Homo sapiens: one gene and its partner. Changing the gene in region 1 together with any one later gene gives a genetic interaction. Each region holds a gene or a part of one and is shown on either strand. Other genes may lie near its edges.

Region 1 (5,226 bases):
AAGAAACACTGCCCCAACCCATTAACACAGCTTGGCAATTCTAATTTTTGATACCCAATTATCTCCCAACCTGCCTTCTACACCCCAGCTTTTCAGAACTTGATGTTTTGTTCAAAATATATAGTCACCCCCATTAGGACATCATCCAGCTTTGAGATTCTGGGCCCCCTAATCATAGGCATAGCAATGGCTGGTCACAAGCTCTGTTAACACACTGAGAAAATTCCAGCATCAGTCCCACACACAGATGATGGGAAATTATGTTTTTTGTTTCCTGAATGCCACAGAGTCAAGCTGGCATTCTGGATAAGCAATTTTCTTTCTTTATTTATTTTTTTATTTATTTGAGGCGAAGTCTTCCCTCTGTCGCCCAGGCTGGAGTGCAGTGGTGCGATCTCGGCTCACTGCAACCTCTGCCTCCCGGGTTCAAATGATTCTCCTGCCTCAGCCTCCCGAGTAGCTGGGATTACAGGCACCCACCCCCACACCCGGCTAATTTTTTTGTATTTTTAGTAGAGATGGGGTTTCACTATGTTGGTCAGGCTGGTCTCAAACTCCTGACCTCAGGTGATCCACACACCTCGGCTTCCCAAAGTGCTGGATTACAGGCGTGAGCCACTGAGCCTGGCCAGCAATTTTCACTTACAGGTCTTCTTCTTCTTTTTTTTTTTTTTTTTTTTTTGAGACAGGGTCTTGCTCTGTCACCTAGGCTGGAGTGCAGTGGCACAATCAGCTGACTGTAAACTTGAACTCCTTGGCTTAGGATCCTCCTGCCTCAGCCTCCCAAGTAGCTAGGACTACAGACATGTGCTACCACACCTGGCTAATTTTTTTATTTTTTGCAGAGACAGGGTCTCACTAAGTTTCCCAGGCTGGTCTCAAACTCCTGGGCTCAAGCGATTCTCCCACCTCAGCCTCTCAAAATGTTAGGATTACAGGCATGAGCCACTACACCTGGCCACAGGTGTTCTTCTTGGTTGAGGTCAGCTCAAGGATTGTTGGGGGCAGAGTGAAGAGACTGTTGTGGAGTTAACCCTAAAGAAGACCACCATGTACAGCTGTACAAGATGTGCACTGCACAAAGGCATCAGGTTAAGGAGGCAATTGGGAGCTGACACTAAGCCTGTACACTACTTACACAGCCATGGGATTGTGGTTTGGGGAAACTTTGTATACATTAAGTGCTGTGGTGGCCCTGCCCTACAGCTCTCCTAACCTCTACCTCCCAAAGCTCCATTAAGTCCAGAGATGCAGTCCCATAAGAAACTCTAGGGTGCAGTCCACCTTTGTTATTTTCTCCTTTTTATGTACTCCAACTCCTTCCCATACAAGCACCAGGGAGATTTGTCATCAGAAAAATCACATTTTATTGATCACTTTTATTTAAAATTACAAAAATATAAATAAAAATAGTGAAATATAAATATTCAGTGTACAGGAGTGGTCCTCACCCCACCCAGTGAGGATTGGATGAACTAGGCTAAAAGGAAGGGATAACTGGCCAAGAAAGGGACATCTATGTGAAAGTGAAACTGAGACAGTGCTGGTCACAGGTCATGCTGCAGAATAATACATTCCCAGGCACTGTCACGTGGGGGACCCAAGAGGCCCCAGGAGTGACCTATAACCTCTCCAGAAAGACCACTCTGTGTGGCATCACAGTCCACACAGTTTAAGGAAATATTTAGACTTAACAATCAGACACCAGCTCTTACTCACACTTACACTCACAGCCCACACACAAGTGTGCAAACATACACACACATATATATTTCCTGATACATTCATGGAATATCAGAGCCCTGCCCTGAAGTCGTTAGTGTCTCTGCTCCCCAAACCGCTGCTCCCACATTGGCTAAGCTCCCTCAAGAGACCTCAGCTGTTACACTTCCTAATTGGGAAATTATTCATTTCTCAACCATGGGCCTCACAAATGCCCACCGTCGGGGGAGCTGGCTCTCCCTTCACCCATGCACAGGAGATGCCCTGCCCTTTTTAACTCCTGCAGGCTTCAGTCCAGAAAAAGACAAGTTGCTGGTCAGTAACATGTTGAGTCAGGACCACCCCTCCATCCTGGCCAGAGGGGTCTGGGCAGCCAGCACCCAGGCCTATGCCTGAGGGTAAAGCTATTGTCGTTCGCCCTGGTGGGTGGCACAGGCAAATCCATCTGTGCAGAGCCTATCTTCCCAGTCTCTTCTTACAGCTGATGGAGATGACTCTACTGCAAAAATGACAACCAGCAAGAAAGCGGGTGGTGCCCGTTTCCTCCCTGGGGACCCTCAGAGGGCCAGGCCATTCTCTTCCTTGGTGTGACTGCGGATCCAGGGTAAGAAGTGTGAGACTCTCGTGTAGACGCCTGGCTTGTCCTTCAGGGCACATCCACGGCCCCAGCTCACAATTCCAGTCAAAGTCATGCGGCCTTGGAGGGAACAGACGAGGGGTCCCCCTGAGTCTCCCTGTGACGCCAAAGATACAAAAGATGAGCCCTAGAGAAGTGAGGAGGGGATTTCTGATCCCATCACCCAACCATACCAGAGAGAGGGAAGAGTTTCCCAGTCAAAGTCCTTAGCGACTTCCCATTTTCTTTCTTTTTTTCGGGGGGAGGACAGAATCTCGCTCTGTCGCCCAGGCTGGCGTGCAATGACGTGATCTCAGCTCACTGCAAACTTGCCTCCTGTGCTCAAGCGATTCCCATGTCTCAGCCTCCTGATTAGCTGGGATTACAGGCAGGCACCACCACACCTGGCTAATTTTTTTTTGCATTTTTAGTAGACACAGGGTTTCACCATGTTGGCCAGGCCGGTCTCAAACTCCTGGCCTCAAGTGATCCATCCACCTCGGCCTCCCAAAGTGCTGGGATTACAGGCATGAGCCACTGTGCCTGACGCAGCCCCATTTTCTACCACATCAAGTTTAAAATCCCCTGCTTGGCTTTAAAAGCCCTGTCATCTGCCACTATTCCATCCACACTCCCAGACCCTAGTTCTCCTCCCCACCCGGAATATGCCAGCCTCCTTCTCAGTTTTGTATCTTTCAACTGAAACACCTTCCTTTCTTCCCTCTGCCTCTTCAAATGCCTATCAAGTCACATTTCCTTTAAAGCCTCCCCTCCCTGACCCTCAGGTTGGCACTCACCTCCCTCTCCTGAACACCTGATCATTTATAGTTCACAACACACCCTGGGCACTGAGTTACATTGTCTTTTACTGTTTCCTCTTTCTAGGATCTCGTGCCCCCAGTCTGAAGTGACTAGCGCAGAGCTGGGATTTTTTTGGTAATGTCTGGCAAACACATAAGGACTGGTTTAAACCCTCAAAGACCTGAGCTCCTGATTCTGGCTACTTAGGGCTTTGGCTAGAGAGAGACACCCTTAAGCTGGCTGGAACAAGCCCAGGAGCTCTGGGGAGATATGGAAGAGGTGGAGAGAGATGCTTGGAACACTCACCTGGCAGGAATCTGTTTTCCACTGTGGGTCAGCAGCACACAGCATTTTGGTGGTGACTTCAGAGCCGTAGTAGTGGGGCTGCTGACACTCCCGGTGGGAAATCAGCTTCACAACAGTCATTTTCAGCTGCTCCGGATAGAGATAGTCGGCTAGGTGGAGAAAACAGGGAGGCGTTTGCATCAAGATTTATCTGTCCACTGGGAGTCTGCCAGAGAGGGGAACCATAAAGTATCTCTACCAGGGAAGGCCCTTATTCTCTTCCATGCAAATCTGAGCCTTTACTCCACCTATAGCCCCTACCATCTATTTACCTTTGCAGCCCATCGCTCCCTAAACAACACTCTTCATCCATCCCTGGACCCATCTGCCACCGCCTCAGTGCTCCCACCTCTAACTCTGCAGTCTTCCCTTGATCACGCTGGGCTCATTTTCAGGTCAAAACACTCCTCAGGACCTTCTAAGTCAGTCGCAATTGTCACTTACTAGAATTCTCTTTTCCAAAGCCAGTGATCTCACAGCTTGTGCCAAACTGGGGATCGTTATACATCGAGGGCAGGCAGATGGTCTGTATAGTCCGGGATGGCTGCGCACACCTGCCCTCCTTGGAACGGATCTTCAGCAAGGCTGGGGGAGGACAGAGGGTCAGAGGAGAAAGATCACTACTGGTTAGGCGGTCCCCATCTGTCCCCTCCAAGTGCCGAGGAAGTAGCTATGCCTATCCCTAGGTCAGTCATCCAGGGAGGTCTGCTGGTCGCTTATCACCTGGAAACCTCCCCTGCCCCATGCCCCAAGGGCTTTGTTCCAGGTGTTGAAAAAGGCTTGGATGGCCAGAGCCACTGCATACAGCTGTACAGGTCGTTTCTGCAAAAACTCCCAGCTGAGGTAGTTAGGCTGGAATCCATCCCAAGGCTCCATTCTCCAAGTTCTATATCCTAGCACAGACAGAGGCTGCATCCCACAAAGGAAGGTGTGTCTTTTTCTAATTCATATAAACAGGGCCTTCCCAGCCCAAGCCATATACCCACAGGGCTGTTTCCACTCGCAAGAGGCTACTTGTTGGGGAAATTCAGGGTCTCTCCAGAGGAGCACCAGGCCCCTCAGACTTCATGGAACTCTTCCCTGCCACTCCCTTTGTCATGTATATCGAGGCTTCAAGGTCCCTCGCCCCACCCCTGCCCCACCGGGCAGCTTCAACCTCAGCTCCAGTCTCTCCCTGGGTCCCACTCTCCCCAAGCCATTATGGCCACAGTAGTCGCGGGGTTCCCCCTCACCAATGTCGTTGTGGTGAGCAAGCGTGTCAGCGCTGTAGTCCTTGTGTAGGATGAGGTTTTCCACCTCAAACTTCATCTCCCCTTGCGTGTTGGAGTTAAGCCTTGAGCGACCCAGGTAGACGATGTAGTCCTCCTTCTTTGGGTAATCACTGTGGGAGAAGATACCCATCAAACAGCTTAGTCCCATGAAATCTGCCACTTCTTCCTTCCCTCCCTAGAGGCCTCAAAGCACGACTTGTCCCCAAGGCCATGGGCTGCATGGACAGGGGCAGATGAGGGAGAAATGAGGCGGAACACTTTGCTGGGAAGGAGAAAGGGATGTGCTTGGGGTGGGGCAGAAGAGTCGAAGAGGAGAAACCCAGGGCCGTACATGAAGCAGTGTGTGGCGCTGATCACCCAGCAAGGGCTGATGAGGCTGCCTCCACACACGTAGGTGACAGAGCCCCCCCGGTGCCTCCTGTAGATGGCCGCAAACCAGGGCTGGTTCTCGATGGTGGTGAATTCTCCCCC
Region 2 (7,496 bases), on another chromosome or scaffold:
CTAAACCTAAGCCTTAGACTAAAAGACTTGAACCAGGTCACAAAACCACAACAGAGGCCGGGCTGTAATCCCAGCACTTTAGGAGGCTGAGGTGGGAGGATCACGAGGTCAGGAGTTTGAGACCAGCCTGACCAACAGGGTAAAACCCTGTCTCTATTAAAATACAAAAATTAGCCAGGCACGGTTGCACGTGCCTGTAGTCTCAGCTAGTTAGGAGGCTGAGGCAGGAGAATCGCTTGAAGCCGGGAGGTGGAGGTTGTGGTGAGCCGAGATCGCACCACTGCACTCTGGCCTGGGCAACAGAGCGAGACTGTCAAAAAAAAAAAAAAAAAAAAAAAACCACAACAGAGCTAGGCTTCAAACTTAGCCTGACTCCAGAGCCCTTACCTTTTAACCACTGTTTAGACTCTCCCAGTACCATCCAAATTTTTCTGCCACCAAATCTGGGGTAGTTTCTTCTCATCCTGCTTTTACTGTTTTAATGAAATTCCTCCTCCTTGAGAGAATACAGTTGTGGTATCACGATTACAACAGAATGATAACAGGTACTTCTACTCAGTATCCACTTCCAAATCAAATAGGAAAGGATAATGAGGCCATAACACTCAGCCAGAATCCACTGTGGTCAAAACTTGTCCTAACAACAGTCATGACTTTCAGTCTATTTTAAGAGGGTGAAACACTGTATACTAAAACTGAACAAATGGGCTGGGCACGGTGGCTCATGCCTGTAATCCCAGCATTTTCGGAGGCCGAGGCAGGTGGATCACCTGAGGACGGGAGTTTGCCACCAGCCTGAACAACTTGGAGAAACCCCATCTCTACTAAAAATACAAAATTAGCCGGGCATGGTGGCGCATGCCTGTAATCCCAGCTACTCGGGAGGCTGAGGCAGGAGAGTCGCTTGAACCCGGGAGGCAGAGGCTGCAGTTAGCCAAGATCGCACCATTGCACTCCAGCCTGGGCAACAAGAGTGAAACTCCGACTCAAAAAAAAAAAAAAAAAAAGAACAAATGTTTGCAATGCAATAATGCAATCCAACTACCTATACAAGTCAGTATTATGCAAAATAGACCCCACAGGATTGAGAGGGGACTAAAGAAGAGAGTCTGTTGGGAGCAGGTCTGAAAAACACAGCTGAACACACACCACAGGTCCACCATCGACCTTGTGATCATTACAGGGATGGAACAAGTCATCAAGCCAACAGGTCCCCGGGTTATTAAAATCTAGAGAAAGTTGGCTGGGCATAGTGGCTCATGCCTGTAATCCCAGCACTTTGGGAGGATCGCTAGAGTCCAGGAGTTCAAGACCAGCCTAAGCAATATAGCAAGACCCCATCTGTATAAAAGTTTAAAAAATAAAATTTTCTAAAAATCTAGAGAAAGGAAGGGAGGTTACAGAAATCACCAAAGAGCATAAGGTCCAAGCCTATTCTGATTTCATCAATTAGCTTCCTAAAGTCTGCAGTGTGCAGGTAAAAGATTAAGAACCCAATCCTTATTGAAGGTTGGGCAAACAACAACCAAAAAAAGGCAAAAAAATAATAATAACCTAATCTTTTCTGGCTATTTCTCTAGCTAGCTAAGCAGCTTTCCCTCACATAGTCTTGTCCCTTACCTAGAACCCAAGAGAGTTGTGGGAGCTCAGAAACCCCCAGGAAACAGACTCATGATTATTTAATGAAATAAAGTGCTCGTTTGTAAGCAACGCTGGAAGCTGCAGAGATGGAGCACCTAGCATGTGGTTTCTAGGTCATGGTGTTCATGCCTCAGGTCAGGAGTTTAGGGGCTCCTGGTGAAGTACGGAAAGCTAGGAAATCATTAGTGAGAAAATGGTTTGTTCAATGAATGAATGAAGAGTAGGATGAAGAAGAAAGCCGCTTTCTTGAGCAATTTCCCAGGAAGGCCAAGTACCAGGAACCTCCAAAGTCAGCAAGGAAAAGCCACGAAGTCCACACGGACTTCCAGCACGCCCCCGCTGGCCAGGCAGTTGGCCTGCAACAAGGCACTCAGGCCCCACAGGTGTCAGGCATGAAGGTGAGGATGATGCTCCACACTTAATACCCTGAGCTGGTCTCAAAAGCACAGATGCGATCTTAATTCTTTCCAAAACATTAGCCTCCTCTCCCCGTTACAGGCCAGACTCCCAGATGATCACATTTAGAACAGAACTGGGAGGAGGCAGGGGAGACGTGCTAGCTTTTATTTTCTTGGGAGAAGACTGTACAGTGGCCAGGAACCACTAAAACGGTCGGGAAAAGGGGTACAGAGAGGAATGGAGACCCGCGGGATCCGCTAACTGGTCTGAGTCAGGAACACAATCAGTGCTTAGTCACCGATACCTCGGCGGCCGGGAGTTTCTCGCCCCCTGCCAGCCCCAGACGTACGTGACAAACCAGATCGGAGCCTGGCGCGCGCTCCTGCTCCCCGGCTCGGGCCTCCCCAGCCGGGCCCCGAGGTTCACCGCCCGCCCCATACTTACTCCGCAGAGCTGGTCCCGTTAACTGCAGAGCCGTCGGGGGCCGGGTTCAGCTGGATGGGCGTCGGCTTCTTCTTGGGCATTTTGGACCCGGGTAACGCGCTTCCAACTCCGGGGGGAGGGCAGCACCTCTCGCTTCCTCCCGCTGCGCTGCCCCGCGCCCGCTGCGCAGGACCAAGTCCGGGCCGCGGGCCCCGGGGCTGCCTTCAGCGGGTGCGCCCCGCGCGGTCCCGTCAGCGCCGAGGGGCCGGTAGCGGTCTCAGTGGACCCCCGCCCCACCCGCCCGGGACTCGGCTTCGCGCGCAGAGAGCCGAAAGGCTGCCCTGCAGGAGCGGAGCGGGCTGAACGTGCGGTTCGGCAGCCCGGGATTCCCTTCCTCTCTCTCTCTCAACCAACCAGTCCCTCCGGCTCGGGCGGCACAGCCGCGCGCGCACCAGAGCCCAGCTCCAGCTCCTGCCGGGGAAAGTGCCGCCGCCGCCGTGCTCCTAGCCGCTCTGCGAAGCGGCCCTGGGAGGGACTGGAGGCCGGGGGAGGGGCGGGGAAGGGGAAGCCTCGCCTCCCACCCGGGATGCGGCGCTTTCCACACTCCCACTCGGCTCCGCCCCTATTGCCTCGCAGACAACCAATGGGGGCAAGCCTCGGCGGCAGATGACGCGGAAATACGTCACGGGAGCGCGGCGCACTGCCTGGGGGCGGGGTCCGTCGCGGACGCCGTGGCGCCCTCTGTCGCCCCGAGGCAAGCAGGTGGACCCAGCTGAGAAGAAGTCTGTGTCGCTGTGTGGTGAGCTCTCCAGGCCAGGTGCCGCGCGGCCTCCACCTCTGCGGTAACCGGCCTGCCCCCGACCCCTGTCCCCAAGCCGAGCCGTGTTGACGAAAATGAAATAACAAAATAAATAAGGAAAAGGACCCCTTCCTGTGTCCAGAGGAGAGGCAGCGTGGGGAATAGGAAACTTGTCGAGAGGCTCCTTTGAGCCCAACAAACTGACGCATATAAATTTTGTTTGTTTAATGGTAATACTACTGAGAAGGGTGCAAGGAAATGGATACTCAGTGCTGATGAGATTGTAAATTGTTGCGACAGTTTTTGAGAGCAGATTGATGATTTTTTTTTTTTTAGACTTGGGAACTTTTTTTTTTTTAAGACGGTGTCTCCCTCAGTTGCCCAGCCTGGAGTGTAGTGGCGCGATCTCCGCTAACTACCACCTCTGCCTCCCACGTTCAAGCGATTCTCCTGCCTCAGTCTCCTGAGTAGCTGGGATTACAGGCACTCGCCGTCATGCCCGGATCCTTTTTGTATTTTTGTAGAAACGGGTTTTCACCATGTTGGCAATATTTTTTTAAAGCCTTAAAAACACTCTTTCGGGCCAGGAGCGGTGGCTCACGCCTGTAATCCCAATTTTGGGAGGCCCAGGCAAGAGGATCACTTGAGCCCAGGAGTTCGAGACTAGCCTGGGCAACATAGTGAGTCCCCCGTCTCTATTAGCTGGGCATGGTTGTGTGCAGCTGTCGTCCAAGCTACTGAGGAGGCTGAGGCTGGAGGATCACTTGAGCCCAGGAGTTTGAGGCTGCAGTGAGCTATGATCACACCACTGCACACCAGCCAGGGCTACAGAGCAAGACTCCCTTTAAAAAAACTTTCATCCAGGCCAGGCGCGGTGGCTCACGCCTGTAATTCCAGAACTTTGGGAGGCCGAGACGGGTGGATCACGAGGTCAGGAGTTCAAGACCAGCCTGGCCAAGATGGTGAAACCCATCTCTACTAAAAATACAAAAAATTAGCTGGGCGTGGTGGCGGGTGCCTGTAATCCCAACTACTTGGGGGGCTGAGGCAGAGAATTGCTTGAACTCGGGAGGCGGAGGTTGCAGTGATCCAAGATCACACCACTGCACTCCAGCCTGGGCGACAGAGTGAGACCCCGTCTCAAAAAAAAAAAGAACTTTAATCCAAAAATTCCAATTCTGTGAATTACTAAAGAAATAAGATGTGAATAAAGAGCTTAATAAGAGGCACAATACCCATTTAAAAGTGCACATTCAGTGTTCCTCTTCCCCTTTCCCATCCTAAAATACTAAGTGTCAAAGACATTAGGTGTACAGAACAAAGGAAACGTGTACAGAACAAAGGAAACATCTACACCTGGTTATCCACAGCCAGGTGTTGGTGACCTAGCAGGTAAGGAGGCTGAGGAACCTGAGAAAATGAAGAGGGCTTGAACACCTGGGAGGCAGTCCTACACAAAGTCTTAGCCGTAGGGCCCAAGAGGGGAGAACAAGGCATCCAAGTGGGGAAGGCCTAGAAGCTTAGATGGGAGGTTAGTTGCATTCAGGATGGTTGATTAAGTCACTAAATATATTAAGCATGACAGAGCCAGCTTTCTCACTGTGGTAGAATGACGTTAGAAGTATGGGAAGGGAGAATACCTTACGCTATTGTATTGGAATTGGAGGTATCAGTGTGAACTCATTGTTTTGTTTTGTTTTTTGGGGGGGTGTTTTTGTTTTGTTTTGTTTTTGTTTTTGAGTGGCGTTTTGCTCTTTTTGCCCAGGCTTGAGTGCAATGGCGCAACCTTGGCTCATTGCAACCTCCACCTCCCAAGCTCAAGTGATTCTCCTGCCTCAGCCTCCCAAGTAGCTGGGATTACAGGCATGCACCACCATGCCTGGCTAATTTTGTATTTTTAGTAGAGACAGGATTTCACCATGTTGGCCAGGCTGGTCTCAAACTCCTGACCTCAGGTGATCCGCCCACCTCGGCCTCCCAAAGTGCTGGGTTTACAGGCGTGAGCCACTGCGCCCGGCCTGAACTCATAGTTTTTTAAAAAATAAATTATTCTGGGTGGATGCAGTGGCGGCTACCACCTGTAATCCCAGCACTTTGTGAGGCCAAAGCTGGAAGATCACTTGAGGTCAGGACTTCAAGATCAGCCTGGCCAACATGGTGAAACCCCGTCTCTACTAAATTACAAAAATTAGCCAGGCATGGTGGTGGGCACCTGTAATCCCAGCTACTCAGGAGGCTGAGGCAGGATAATTGCCTGAACCAGGGAGGCAGAGTTTGCAGTGAGCCGAGATTGCACCACTGCACTCCAGCCTGGGCAACAGAGCAAGACTCTGTCTCAAAAATAAATAAAATAGGCCGGGCGCGGTGGCTCATGCCTGTAATCCCAGCACTTTGGGAGGCTGAGGTGGGCAGATCACGAGGTCAGGAAATCGAGACCATCCTGGCTAACACGGTGAAACCCCATCTCTACTAAAAAATACAAAAAATTAGCCGGGCGTGGTGGTGGGTGCCTGTAGTCCCAGCTACTCAGGAGGCTGAGGCAGGAGAATGGTGTGAACCCGGGAGGTGGAGCTTGCAGTGAGCCGAGATCGCGCCACTGCACTCCAGCCTGGGCGACAGAACAAGACTCCGTCTCAAAAATAAATAAATAAATTAAATAAATAAAAATAAATTTTATTGTGTATATTTGAGGTTTGTAACATGATGTTATGGGATATATATAGATAGTAAAATGGTTACTATAGTGAAGTGAATTAACATATCTATACCGTCACATAAAGGCTTGTGTAAAGTATGACGAGCAGCTAAAATCTACTTATTTAACAAAAAACGCAAATAAAATACAATGTTATTAACTATGGTCTTCATGTTGTACATTAGATCTCTAGACTTCTTCATCCTACATATCTGCTGCTTTATATTCTTTGACCTACATCTCCCCATTTCTTTCCCCCATACTTTTTAATATAGAGGCATAGATGTAAATGTATGCATGTGTGTGTAGAAGTGTGTCCTTATTCATGTTAAACATGCATAATTTTTAGTATCAGAGTAAAATAATAAACATTAAAAAGTGAATTGAAGGCCAGGTGTGGTGGTGGCTCACACCTTTAATCCCAGCACTTTGGGAGGCTGAGGTGGGAGGATCACCTGAGGTCAGGAGTTCAAGACCAAGCCTGGCCAACATGGTGAAACCCTGTCTTTACTAAAAATACAAAAATTATCTGAATGTGGTGGCGGGTGCCTGTAGTCCCAGCTACTTGGGAGGCTGAAGCTGGAGAATCACTTGAACCCAGGAGGTGGAGGTTACAGTGAGCCAAGATCACTCCACTGTACTCCAGCCTGTGCAACACAGTGAGACTATCTCAAAAAAAAAAAAAAAATTGAAACTTTTCAAAGTAATCTATTATCAAGGCAGTCTATCTGAATTCTGGTATAATTTTATATTTACTAGTTCAAATAAAAACTATTAGGACTTTGAGCAATTAATTGAAATTTTCAAGGCCTCACTTCCACTCTGTGTAAAATGCAGCATTCTTTTTAATATTGAAATATTATGATTCTATGCATGCTGGGTTGGCCTCCACTGAGTAAACCCTAAGCCCTTATCATGATCCAAGAAGCCCAGATAAACAATTACCCCAATGGTTAAAGTTTGCAGAATAGTTCAAGGTAGGAGAATTTGTTTTCCTCATTTCCTTTTCAGACCGGCAGTGATCCATCGGTTCTGTCAACTTTTCCTGAGGGCCTAACATAAGTGCTGACCATACAGACAAGAATAAGACTGAACTATATGTGTATGAATCAGTGATGTATAATAATAAACACTGTAACATATATATTTGGTTGAACCATATCAGGTTGCTCTATTTGTAGGTCAAAAATGTTTGAATATTGGCAAATACTGGTTCATCCCATTTGTACACAGTGTAGCTAGATCACAAATGTGAAGATCCAAGAAATACAGGCCAGGTGTGGTGGCTCACTCCTGTCACTCCCGTAATCCCAGCACTTTGGAAGGCTGAGGCAGGTGGATGACTTGAGCCCAGGAGTTCAACACTAGCCTGGGCAATATGACGAAACCCCATCTCTACAAAAAATACAAATATTAGACAGGCATAGTGGCACATGCCTGCAGTCCCAGCTACTCTGGAGGCTGAGGTGGGATGATCGCTTGAGCCGAAGTCAAGGCTGCAGTGAGCCATGATCTTGCACACCAGCCTGGAAAACAGAA

Evidence for each region. Genes that interact genetically often act in the same process or in processes that back each other up.
Region 2: of PLAU (region 1) and MAP2K1, changing one suppresses a phenotype caused by changing the other (phenotypic suppression), as found in Homo sapiens cells (one study listed by BioGRID).

Annotation. Positions count from the first base shown.
Region 1 is NC_000010.11:73,913,619-73,918,844, reverse strand, and holds the end of PLAU (urokinase-type plasminogen activator isoform 1 preproprotein), read right to left. Parts: coding exon 5,087-5,226; intron 4,866-5,086; coding exon 4,717-4,865; intron 4,070-4,716; coding exon 3,929-4,069; intron 3,595-3,928; coding exon 3,446-3,594; intron 3,275-3,445; exon of another isoform or gene 3,224-3,274; intron 2,457-3,223; coding exon 2,280-2,456; 3' UTR 1,351-2,279; downstream 1-1,350. UniProt on the Homo sapiens protein: Specifically cleaves the zymogen plasminogen to form the active enzyme plasmin.
Region 2 is NC_000015.10:66,382,416-66,389,911, reverse strand, and holds the start of MAP2K1 (dual specificity mitogen-activated protein kinase kinase 1), read right to left. Parts: upstream 3,001-7,496; 5' UTR 2,565-3,000; coding exon 2,485-2,564; intron 1-2,484. UniProt on the Homo sapiens protein: Dual specificity protein kinase which acts as an essential component of the MAP kinase signal transduction pathway.